Regions from separate parts of the Homo sapiens genome. Here regions 2 and 3 are each linked to region 1. Evidence: fine-mapped expression QTL. A gene starts in region 1. Each other region holds a variant in brackets. All regions are shown on one strand. Distances are between the middles of the regions.

Region 1 (4,244 bases):
TGAAGTCTGAGAATCTGGATTGCAGAAGACTACCGAGGTCGTGGGAGAAGGGAGAGAAAACAAGGATGAAAACCGAAAGGGGAAGAGGCATGAAATGTTGTCAAATGCCAAAAGGCATTTGGAGAGAAGTTGGGAATTGCATTAAGAAAACCACTGCAAATCTCATTTCAGACCATTTAGAGATATGCCCCCTGGGAACTGCGAGCTCAGGCTGTTTAGCATCAAACAAATGGATCCACTCCATCCCTACCCTAATTAAATAAATCATTCAGTAATTCCACTGGGTTAAAGAACCAAAATAATAAAAACCTTCAGGGCCTACTCTTGCCAAATATGTCAGGGATCGTGTGTGTGTGTGTGTGTGTGTGTGTGTGTGTGTGTGTGTGTGTGTGTGTGTTCTGAGACACCACTACTGTTAAATAGGCAGAGCTAAGACTTAGGGGACTGGCAGATTATTGCAAAAAGGGCACGGGGCAGAGGGACTATGTTGTGAGCCTGCGAAAGAAGTTTGTGTGGGGACTGTGGGCAGTGAATGCGTTGGGAACAATATGGAAAACTGGGAGCTGCCTTGGAATCTACAGGGCCGGGTAAGAGAATGTCCGAAAGAAAAATGAGCAGGTGCGGGATGTGCGCAGAGTCGGAGAAGAGTCCAGGGCGCCCGGAGTGGCTCCAGGAACGACGGAAACCCCTCAAGGCTTTTGGGGGCGGTGGGTACTAATAGAACCCAGTGTCCGGGGTGCACCGGGGAGGCTGCGAGCGCGGCGGGAGTGGGGCGCTGGAGGGTGAGGACGCGGGAGTGAGGTAGCAAAGCCGGGGCCGGGCAGGGGCCTCCCAACTGGGCCCGGAGGCAGCAGGGGGACAAGGGCTAGGAGAGGGCATGGCGGCGGCGCGGCGGGAAGCGAGGGGCATCCGGACACTCACCCCGTTGGCCGCGGCCATCTGCACCACGATCTCGATGGCCGTCCTGCTAAAGTACCTGCCGTCGCTGCCCACCACCATGGTGCAGCCCTGACGGTCGCGCAGGTCGATGGACGACAGCACGCTCTGGATAAAGTTGGGCAGGTAGTTGCGCTGGCCCTCGAAGAGGCCGGTGGGTCGCCGCAGACCCCCGCCGCCGGCCGGCCGCTGGTCCTCGTAGGGCGCGGTGGGCACTGTCAGCACCGGGATGGGGCTCCCCTCCATGGCGCCTCCTGGCCGGTCCTGCTGCGGCTCCCGGAGCCGGAGGGAATCTGCAGCCTGCCGGGGGCCTCCACCAGCCTGGCTGCGCGCCGGGACTCCGCCTCGCGCCCGGGCCCCCTCTCCAGCAGGTCGGCGCCCTGCGCCCTGCACCCGCCCGCCTGGGGACCGCCCGCCCCTCCTCTCCGCGCGGCCGCTCGGCTGACTCTCTCGGCAGAGATTGCTTCTGCCTTCCTGTAAAGTTTTCTCCCACCCACCTTCTCCGCTGCCAGACCGCCCGAGCTGCCCTCAGTTTCTCCCCAAGTTGGACTCACTTTCGGGGTGTCCCAAAAGCCTGATTCCAGGGCCTGCTAGCCCGACCCCGGTGACGCCTCCACCCGCGCCTGGCCCCAGCCTTCACCCGCGATCGCCGCCCTCCGGGGCACACCCTCCGCCAGAAAACAGCCGGCGGGCGGCGAGACTTTGGGCAGAGTCCGGGTTCCTCTCCGGCGCCCGGCCCGTCTCCCTGTCTCCCTGGGAGTGCGCAGCCTACACACACCAGTTTCTCTTTAGAACAAGGACGGGGAGGGATTTGGGAGGGGGCTGAAACCTTTTGCCATCAGCGAACAGCCTCAGCCAAAAATAACCCTGGAAAGGCGAGCTAAGAATGGTTATCTCCTGCCAGCGCTGAAATCGGAGGCTGGGCGCTGCGTGTGGGGTGTGTGTGTGTGTGTGTGTGTGTGTGTGTACCCTCCCACCCCGACCATTTGTTGAAGGGAATCACCACTGTCAGACTTCAATCCAACAGGACCCACTCGAGCCATCCACACTTTCCCCAGCCTCCTCCAAAACAGCACACTTTCCGGTATGGACAATTCTTTTTTTTTTTTTTTTTTTTTTTCACTTGTTTGTTTGTTGTGGTGGTTGCAACAGCAGCAACACAGACGACACATATTTCCCTATTCTTCTCGCCCTTCTCACCCTCCCTACCCAGCTCCTGCCTTAGAAATAGGCTTTCCTACACTGTATCTGTCCACACTGTCTGAACTCTTCCTTGAATTAATCGTTTTCAATAGGAGGGGGCTAAATCCCTTATTAATGCCCTACCAGGAGTGAATGAATAAAGCCAAGTTAAAGGAGACCTGGGTACCAGATACTGTGCTAGGTTCCTTTGCATGTATCCTTTCATTCTGCTGGAGCTAAAGATTTTCTGCCTCCTCTCCATAAAACGCACCCAAACTCCAAAACCAGGAAATTCTCCATAGAAAATAGGAGTGAAGAGAGAAAAGACTAACAGGATAAAACCCAAAGCAGGAAGAAAGTTCTATCTCCCATTTCTCTCAAGGAATTTTTGGACCCACCAAGGCTACTGTCCTGAAATATCCTGCTGCTTCTCCTTCCCCAAATATTGTCCACTTACTGAGAGTAAGGCTGACTTGCCGCAGGCTTATAAAGTGTTTGGTCACAGTAAGACAACTGTGAGTAATAACACACATTGTATACTGTTTTGCAATTGATTAAAGGCTTTGCATCTGTTTTTTCTTTGGAGGCTGAAGAAAAGAAGAATGGTATTCATGCAGTTCCCATTTTACAGATGAAAACAAGAGGACTTTTTCTGTGAAGTCAAGAAAGTGGTTACAATGGTACTTTCAGCCTGTCCGAATTATGTATTGCCCCTCCCCTTTTTATTAATAACATTGAAGTGTGATGGGACAACCACTGAAGCCGTCTGTTGAAACCTGCTGGGACTTTTTAGCCATTCTCTTCAACATAAAGAATGGGTGTTTTTGGAGGGGGTGAGAGGAATGGGGAAATGTTGTCAAAGAGTACAATGTTTTAGTTGAGACAGGAGGAATATATTTTGTTGAGATCTACAGCACAGCATGGTGACTGTAGTTAACAATGAAGTATTGTGTATTTCAAAATTGCTAAGACAATAAATTTCAAATGTTCTCACCACAAAAAAGATAGGTTTTGAGGTGATGAATCTATTAATTCTCTGGATTTAATTATTCCACAATGTATACATATATCATAACATCACATCATACCTCCGTAAATACATACAATTTTAATTTGTCAATTAACATTTTTTTAAAAGAATAGTGTGGCCAGTCGGGGAGGTAGTTTTTTTTTTTCCTCTAGTCTCTACTCAGTCTCCAAGATCCCATTTCCCATAAAGTTCCTGTCACCCAGGTGGAGTGCAGTGGCACAATCATGGCTCACTGCACCCTCTCCCTCTTGGGCTCAAGCGATCCTCCTGCCTACAGGTACATGCCACCACGCCCAGCTAATTTTTGTAGTTTTTGTAGACATGGGGTTTCACCATGTTGCCTAGGCTGGTCTCGAACTCCTCAGCTCAATCAATCTGCCCACTTTAGCCTCCCACAGTGCTGGGATTACAGGTGTGAGCCACCAAGCCCAACCCATAAAGTTCCTAACTTTTTATCTCCCTGGGAGTGCACAGCCTACACACACCAGTTTCTCTTTAGAACATACTTAAGAGTCTTGGCTTAGCATCCAACAGACAGAACTTTAACACTTCTAGGGATCTGTGCACCTGTCTATGGTGTGGGGTTTTTAAGATCTCTTTCTAATGACACTTTTTTTTGCAAAGCAGGACAGTTTCATTCCCAGAAGAGCAGGTATGGTAAATCCTTTGTTCCAGTAACGAAGACAATGATCCAAACCCTAAGCCTCAGAGAAGCCCAGAAACCCTCCAGGCCTCCATCTCTCTGCTCCTAGCACCTGCCTCTCTCTTGACATCAACATCATTCTCCCCTCTCACAGCCCAGCTCCTTCCACAGACCCAGGGATTAGGCACCAGCACCTCAGACTAGATTTTAGAGAATTACCATTCAAGAGGCAATCCTCTTCCCTTGGTTCCAATTTCAAGGTTCTCAAAGACTGGAACAGGGCTAGTTTGAGGCAATGTGCCCTACCACATAGCCAGAAAGAACCTTACAGTGACAAGGAAAACAAGTCTTCCAAAGTAAGGGGGTGCTGATCCCCAGAGGGAGGACAGATGGGCAACCAAACAGTAACCGGGCCACCACGTGCTTCACACTCACTGATCAAGGATTTCTAAA
Region 2 (4,244 bases), 160 kb before region 1:
ATGGCAATCAAGTGGCAAAGCTGAGCTCTGAACCTACTCAGTACTGTGATTTTTAACCTCAAAGCTAGGCTGTATCTCACTATCTAGACTGCCCTTATACTGAGGGAAAAGTTTTCATTTTCTGAAAGTTTATAAATATATTTGTCTTAATGCCAAAAGTTTCCCTGTTTCTAGGCACACTATTTGAAAATTACCTTTTTAAGGATTATTAAATATAACAATCACAGGGAAATGCAAACAATTTAACATACTCTAATTATATGTAAAACTGATGCTTGTCCTTCTGAAGACAAAGCCTATTTGAGTTCTAAATGAACCCATCAAGTCGTTCTCCCTTGTTAGCATACTGTCAGCACATATAGCCTACGTCCAGGTTTTTTCTTTAGCAATACCGTTTTATGATATTAAAGGACTTCCCTTTGATTCCTATTCACAGAATTTTTATCATGAAGAGATGATACATTTTATCAAAAGCTTTTTTTGTGTCAATTTTGTTTTCATTTTCGAATTCAGTTGCCCTTATAATACTCTGTATTCTTTCATTCCTCAGCATATAGGTAATTTTTATACGTGTCCCCTGTGGCATGAAAAGAATTTACACGTTGAGTTGATGTTGCGTGGTGTAATATCTATATGTGCCTATTAAGTCAGGTGTGTTAACTAAGTTGTTTAAATATTCTATGTTCTTTACTAATTGTATACTTATTCTAATAATTACTGAGAGGGGTGCTAAAATACTCAAGGGCAACTGTGGATTTATTTTCTTCTTACATTTTCATCTCTCTCTCCCTCTTTTTTTTTTCTTTATAAATTTAAAACTACTGTGTCTTCCTGGGGGATTTAACTCTTTTATCAGTTTGAAGAGTCTCTCTTTATCTTTAGCAATGCTTTTGACCTTAAAGTCTATTTTATCTGAAATAATAGAGCTAGTTTTAGGTTATCATTTGTATATCTTTTTCCGTCTTTTAACTTTCAAATTTTCTGTATTTTTATGTATAAAAGATGTATTTTTTATAACGAGCTTATAGTTGTCTTTTTTTTTTTTTTGAGACAGGGTCTCACTCTGTCACTCAAGCTGGAGCGCAGTGGTATGATCATGGCTGACTGCATCATCAATTTCCCAGGCTTGAGCAATCCTCTCACCTCAGCCTCCCAATTAGCTAGGACTACAAGTGCACACCATCACACCTGGCTAATTTTATTTATTTATTTATTTATTTATTTATTTATTTATTTATTGTAAAGACAAGGTCTCCTTATGTTGCCCAGGCTGGTCTCAAACTCCCAGGCTTAAGCAATCCTACCACCTTGGCCTCTGAAAGTGCTGGGATTACAGGTATGAATCACCATTACATTGTCTTTTTCCTACAGCAGTTAGTTCACTTATATTTAAAGTAATAACCAGTAAATTCAAGTTTAAATCCACCACCTTATGTGCTTTTTACTTGACCTAGCTGTTTTTCTTTTTTTTTTTAATTTTTTTTTATTATACTTTAAGTTTTAGGGTACATGTGCACATTGTGCAGGTTAGTTACATATGTATACATGGATGAAATTGACCTAGCTGTTTTTCTTTCTCAATTTTTTAAAGTTCCTATGTTTTCCTCTCTTAAGAAGTTATGTAATTTCCTTCTATTTTTTTTAATCGTTACCTAGAAACTACAACATGAATCCTTGACCTATCAAAGTCTAGTATTTATCTATACCTTTATTTTCTTCCAATATATTCAAGGATCTTACCTTAACTACAATTATGCTCATGGTGTTTAGTTACTGTGGTTGTATAATTTAATTCTCCATATTAATTAATATACATATTTCAGCAATTATTAATATTTTATACAGCCAATGTTCATTTATACCAACTCCTATTTTTAACATTTCTTTTATTCCTTGCTGCATTTTATTCCAAATATCTATCTGGGATAATTTTCCTTCTTCCTGAAGAATATCCTTGAGAATTTCTTTTTGTGTAGATACTCTCTCAGCTTTTGTTTATCTGAAGATGTGTTTATTTCGCTTTCATTTTAGAAGGAAAGTTTCACTAGATT[AAG/G]AGTTCTAAGCCATCAGTCTCCTTATTTTTAGTGTTGATAAAGAAAAATTAGTTGTCAATCAAACTATTCTTTGCCTTTGATTTTCTGCAATTTTAGCCTGATGTGTCTAGATGTGAATTTATTTTTATATATCCTGCTTGGCTTTCTAGAATCAGTGGGCTGACCTCCTTCATTGGTTCTGGGAAATCTTCACCTATCATTTTTTCCAGTGTTGCCTATACCCAAGTTTCTGTCTCCTCTTTTGAGACTCCAACTAAATTATGTTAGCACTTCTCACTGTATCCTTTGTGTCTCTTACCCTCTATTCTGTATTTTTCCGAATATGATCTTTCATCTTCCAAAGGCAGCAATCTTATATTCTTTGTTCTGCAAATCATAAGGACTAAACTGAAAAATCAGATGCATAGTTTCTTCTGAAATATTTTAAGTTCACTGATATTCTTCAGCTGCTGTTAAATCCATTTATGTTCTTAATTTTGGTTATCTTTCTCAGCTCTTTAATTTCAACATCTTGGTGTATTTTTATAGTTTTCAGTTATTTGCTGATGTTTTTACATTCAGTGCTTTATTTCCATGAACATAGTGAAAATAACTATTTTACAGTGTGTATTGAATAAATTCCAGTATCTATAGATCTTTTTCTGTGGTATGTTGTTTCTGTTGATTCTGGTATGTGTTGCTTTGTGTATCCAAGTGCTTTATAATCTTTTATTGTTTGGTGCCCATTTTGTTTGAAAAATTGCTTATAGAAATAACTGGAGACCTAGAATATTGTTAGTTTCCTTCATTTCCTTTCATGAGACTCCTCAGGGAGCCAGAAGATCAGAGCCATGGATTTATAATCCTCTGGAGTACAGTCTGTATACCACCTTTGGAATGGTCTTCTTCAAGTTTACACCCTAGAGCAGGGATTGTTAAGCCAGGATCTCTGCCTTTGATGTGTACTTAACTAACCATATTTCTTTTGGCCACACGAAAATGCCACACAGGTCTGCCTCTTTGCTGCCTCTTTGGTTAGTCTCCTGGTTAGCAGAGGCAGACTGTAATAGACCAGATCCTCCTCCACCTGGACCTGATGCCGGTCACCTTTACCCTGTGCCAGTCATCAAAAGCACCTCTTCTTTAGTACCTCTCCTAGATGGACAAATTCCCTAGGACAGAAAGAGCTTTGGCTCATTTTCCTGAGTGCCAACCCTTTTCCTGTTCTTGTTACTGTTTTATTAGGTCATTGGTCAACCATGCTTTTAATAAGATGCTTTAATATATTTCTTTCAGCTCTTTACAGAGGGAAGGTTAGTTTGAATCACCTAGTCCACCACTACTAAAAGTTAGAAGTCCTTCATATGGGATTTGTGTTGTTTTGTAATCATTTTCCTGCCAATATTTAAAAATCAAATTTCATTTGAAAGTCCAGATATCTTGCTCCTTTTAAAATCAGAAAACCTGGCAACCTTGAGCTCACATATTAACAATGCAATAATTAAAGACAGCTGAGCATCACCAGAGTGCCCACCATGCTCTATTGTCTTAAATTGGCCCCAATCTAGGACTTACTGCCTGTGTTGGTGGGTGACTGAATTTGCTACCACTGAACAAGCAATAGTACACTAGAGGCAGTGAAATAATTTTAATATTAATAAGTATAAATTTTACCTGGATAGTTACATATCCAGGAATCTGGGGCATTCTAATTTAAATTTTCTCTTTTTCTGAAATAGAGATTTTTGTATTATGAGGGCCTTGAAGACTACTGCGGAGGGCTGGCAGATTTGCGTAAGAGCCCAGCAACCATTTGGGGAGTAAAGGTACTGCAGTCCTCCCCGTCCCCTATTATGCCTATGCCCTGAGATGCAAACTCTCAGCATGGACTCAACTGCTCATGACTACAACACAGAACTAGGCTAGGCGCAGTGGCTCAGGCCTGTAATCCCAGCATTTTGGTAGGCCGAGGCGGGCAGATCACCTGAAGTCGGGAATTTGAGGCCAGTCTGACCAATATGGAGAAACCCCGTCTCTATTTAAAAAAAAAAAAAAAGACAAAAAATTAGCCGGGCGTGGTGGTGCATGCCTGTAGTCCCGGCTTCTCAGGAAGCTGAGGCAGGAGAATTGTTTGAACCCAGGAGGCGGAGGTTGCAGTGAGCCGAGACCGCGCCATTGCACTCCAGCCTGGGCAACAAGAGCGAAACTCTG
Region 3 (4,244 bases), 220 kb before region 1:
GGCTACACTTGAGAATACACACAGGCACACTTTGAAGCTGGGAGTCTTCACTTTGCATGTTATAAAACCCCAAAGCATTTATTTAAAGGGAGAAATTTGATTTTGTAATTGTAAAGACTAATGAAATTTTACGTGGTTGATGATTTTGTCAGTTACCTCAATGTTTGACAACCTTGTTAAGCAGCTTTCTAGAAAGGATATATTCAGGCTCTCACCCTCTGAAAATTATATTAAACAATTTTGGTGGACATGACTGTTTACATAATCAGTAAGCTTCTCTATAATGACTGTATTTGTATTTCTGTAAGTTTTTTGTGTGAATGTGAGAGCAAGCTTTAGACACTTGCAAAGGGATTAGGCTCACAGAAATGAATCCATTCCAGGCAATAATTTGGAAAGTCATATTTAAATCTTTAATTAGAACACTAAGTCCTAAAACTTAGCTTAGCCTATAGAGTCTCTTTATATGAATTAGTTCAGGCATGGTGAAAAATCTAAGAATGATTCTTTTATGTCATGCTCAACCCCCCAGAAAAACTAAGGTACACTTCCCAGCTTTTCCCAACTTCTCTCCTTTTATGAGAAAATGGCATTAATGTAAAATATTAAATATTAAAATAATAGTATTGTCCTATTGCTCAGAACAATCTTCTCCGAAGTATTCTTTAATAGGACAATGGTTCTCAAATAGGTGAGCTTCAGAATCGCCTGGAGGACTGTTAAAACACAGATTGCTGGATGCCACCCCCTAAAGTTTCTGATTCAGTGCATCTGAGGTGGGACTGAGTAATCTGCATTTCTAACAAGTACCAAGGCAATGCTGGTTCATAGGGAGCACACCTCAAGGATCACTAAAAATTCCGTATGTGTATATATGTATATATTCAGGATGTAATTCCCAAATACGCAAACACACACACACACACACACACACACACACATATGCATGCACACACAGACACACACACACCACAGAAAGAGAGAAAGAGAGAGAGAAAGCAAAGGCAGCAAAATGTTAATAATTGGTGGATTTGGGTAACAGGTATTTGGGAGCTCCTTACTATTGGTGTGAATTTTCTCTAAGTTTGAAATTATTTCAAAATACAGTTTAAAAAAATTATACCTTATGAAGCTAACACTTGGTGTCTAAACAAATAGAAAACCAGTTCGAATAAAGTCTTCTTGGGCATTTGTCTTGAGTTCAAGTCATGCTCACCACTTAACAGCTAACATGGTTTGGCTTTGCGTCCCCACCCAAGTCTCATGTCAAATTGTAATTCCCAGTGTTGGAGGAGGGGCCTGGAGGGAAGTGATTGAATCATGGGGGCGGACTTCCCCACTGCTGCTCTTGTGATAGAGTTCTCAGCATATCTGGTTGTTTGAAAGTGTGTAGCACTGGCCCCCCCACTTCTCTCTCTCTCTCTCTTCTGCTGGCCATGTGAAGATGTGCTTGCTTCCTCTTTACCTTCTGACATGATTGTAAGTTTCCTGAGGCTTCCGCAGAAGCAGAAGCCTGTACAGCCCGCAGAACCTATTAGCTGATTAAACCGCTTTTTTTTTTTTAAGTATCCAGTCTTAGGTATGTCTTTATAGCAGCATGAGAACGGACTAATACAACAGCCAACTGAATTTCTTCTTAACTCATCATCATCAATATAAGACTCCAGAGTGCGAGCACACATATGGATTTCTGAAGCAGGGGCTTGTGTAGTGATCAGAACGGGGCTTTTGGCTTCAGACAGGCCTGGAGGTGATTCCTGAATTTGTCATTTACCAGTTCTGGGAAATTGGGAGTCACTTAAACCAAGGCTGCTGCATTGTGCTCCAGAAGGTTCCATTTACATAGAAAACAAAGTAAATAATGTTCCCTGTAGTTGTACAAGGCCATGACCCTGATTTAAACTTTCTGAACCTCAGTTTTCATATCTGTAGAAAGGGGAGAATAATAACGCTTGGAATGGTTACAGAGATTAAATGACAGTGCTTGTAAAGAGCTTACTTAACACAGTTGGCTGGTCCATAGCAAGTGCTCAAGAAATGGTAGCAGTATTGAGGATGATGACAATGGTTCCTACTGGAAATTATGAATTCTTTTGAAGGAGAACTGGTCTGCATGGTCCTTTCCAGTTCCAGTTCCAA[T/A]GCTGTGATCAGAGATGCTTCTATTTAACAAAGGCAACATGGACTTTTCACCTTTATTATTGTTGTTACTATTATTACTATTTTCTCCGGGGGACCTTGATGAAAAGTTATTACTAATAATACAATAATTCTCGTTATTTAACTTTTGTCAAAGAGACCCATTCATGATTTTTCCACTCTATAAATAAAAATCACATCTTCTTTGAAGTGGGCAACTTTCGTAGTACCATTTCTTGGGGACATCAAGATCCAGTACCTTACTGATATGCCTCAGAGGGTGTTTTCCCTCCAAGGACATATTGCACTGGAGATTTTTAGGATATAAACATTTATCAGTTATCTACCTGGGGAGCAAACAGGTTGTTGTTGGAAAAGTCATGCTAGGCAGAAAATCCAATTGGCTAGATAAAAATATAATCAGAGAAGCAAGAAGTTAAGAGACAGGAGAATGATGTTCCAAGGACTGGGAAGAAGTTCAGAATTCTGTCTCTTGAAGAAATTGTTCAGCACTGTGTCCCTGAGTTGCAGGTGTGCAGTAGCAATTTATTTCCAGCCTAAAGACCACTGAGAGAATAGCAGATTGGGAAGCCAGACCACCTGTCTAGTCCCAGCCACATCTCTGAGTATCTCTGAGGCCTTAGCAAATCACTGAATCTCTTCGTCTACAAAATGAGGGAGTTGGATTAGCTCAGAATCTTATCAAAGTATTGTTAAGCCACGAAGTCTGATACGGTTTGGCTCTGTGTCCCCACCCAAATCTCATCTTGAATTGTAGCTCCCATTAATTCCCACATGTTGTGGGAAGGACCCGGTGGGAGATAACTGAATCATGGGGACAGTTTCCTTCATACTGTTCTTGTGATAGTGAATAAGTCTCACAAGATCTGATGATTTTATAAAAGGTTTCCCCTTTCGCTTGGCTTTCATTCTCTCTCTTGCCTGCCACCATGTAAGACGTGACTTTTCTCCTCTTCGCCTTCCACCATGACTGTGAGGCCTCCCCAGCCACATGGAACTGTGAGTCCATTAAACCTCTTTTTCTTTATAAATTACCCAATCTCAGGTATGTCTTTATCAGCAACATGAGAAGAGACTAATACAGAGTCCTTTGTTAAAATAAATTTTATGAGAATATTCAAAAGAAAATCAAATACACACAAGGGTGCTCAGTGGAAGTTGGGCTGGTGACTCCAGACATTCACTCTACTAACTTCTTACCTCTGGCAGCTGCAGAGGGAAATTGGAGGAAACCCAGGGGCTCCATGGAGCACGGATTCAAAACCACTGAACTGAATGAAGTGCCTTCCAGCTCAAACACTTCATCTCTACCTTTGATGTATTTCCTCAAAGGAATTGTCATATATGGCACTAAGTTCCATAAAGTTTTATTCCTCAGAATCCTTTATAGAGCTCTTTTATCTTCTGACAGCTCTGCATGGAAGCCATTATTAAGCTAACTTTGTTCGTGGGCAAATTTTAAATCTATTTGCCCAAGGCATTTGACAGAGACACAATCAGGGCCAAACTGAAAAGCAGCAAGCTTTGCCTTTGGTACCCAGACAGAAATAAGAGACTACTTTTAACTTTTGTTTCCACTGTCAGTCCTGTAACTCATCATGCAGATTCCATTTGAGTTATCATGGTTTTTTTTTGTTTGTTTTTGGTTTTTGATGTTGTTTAATTCTAGCTTCCACATAACTGAGTTTTCAGAGCTAGAAACCATATATGGTGAACCAGCCCTCATAAATGTTACACAATTTTATGTATTAGCTACACAGAAGTTGCTGAAAAGCCTGAAGGGAAAGCAGATGGTTAAAAAAATACTCTTGTCTTTGTGAATTTGGGGAACTTTGCTATGAGAAATTACAGATTATTATTTTCCTTGTTATACCTTTAGTCAAACAGATGGCATGAGACAGCGAACAGGAATTCTACACAGTTTCCATGGCAATTGTTGGAGAGCCCTGGCCTATTTGTAATGATGTGTAGTGTAGTATCTAGGGCAAAGGTGAAATTGTGGGGTTTCATTCTGCAACACCTACTGATTTTAAGCCATTCAGATGACATTTGTTGGGTTCCCATTGCCTAAAAAGCAATGTCCTAGT

The links. PIP is the estimated chance that this variant, and not a neighbour inherited with it, causes the effect. A credible set is the group of variants that fine-mapping cannot tell apart.
Region 2: its variant is the best candidate, but not a certain one, in a credible set for the expression of PGM5 in whole blood (INTERVAL, PIP 0.54).
Region 3: its variant is the best candidate, but not a certain one, in a credible set for the expression of PGM5 in whole blood (INTERVAL, PIP 0.73).

The regions. Positions count from the first base shown.
Region 1 is chr9:68,354,066-68,358,309 of GRCh38, reverse strand. PGM5 (phosphoglucomutase 5) reads right to left here and starts at 1,699. Exons shown (of 11, transcript NM_021965.4): 1 at 922-1,699. The coding sequence starts at 1,182. It overlaps PGM5-AS1 (PGM5 antisense RNA 1), which reads left to right and starts at 444. Exons shown (of 3, transcript NR_121192.1): 1 at 444-587; 2 at 1,964-2,020; 3 at 2,705-3,146.
Region 2 is chr9:68,516,893-68,521,136 of GRCh38, reverse strand. The region is part of intron 10 of PGM5 (phosphoglucomutase 5); the gene reads right to left. Among named protein-coding and RNA genes, the nearest start is that of TMEM252, 22 kb to the left of the region's middle. The variant AAG/G (reference allele first, on the strand shown) is at 2,052.
Region 3 is chr9:68,569,548-68,573,791 of GRCh38, reverse strand. The region is part of intron 2 of TMEM252-DT (TMEM252 divergent transcript); the gene reads right to left. Among named protein-coding and RNA genes, the nearest start is that of LINC01506, 25 kb to the right of the region's middle. The variant T/A (reference allele first, on the strand shown) is at 2,140.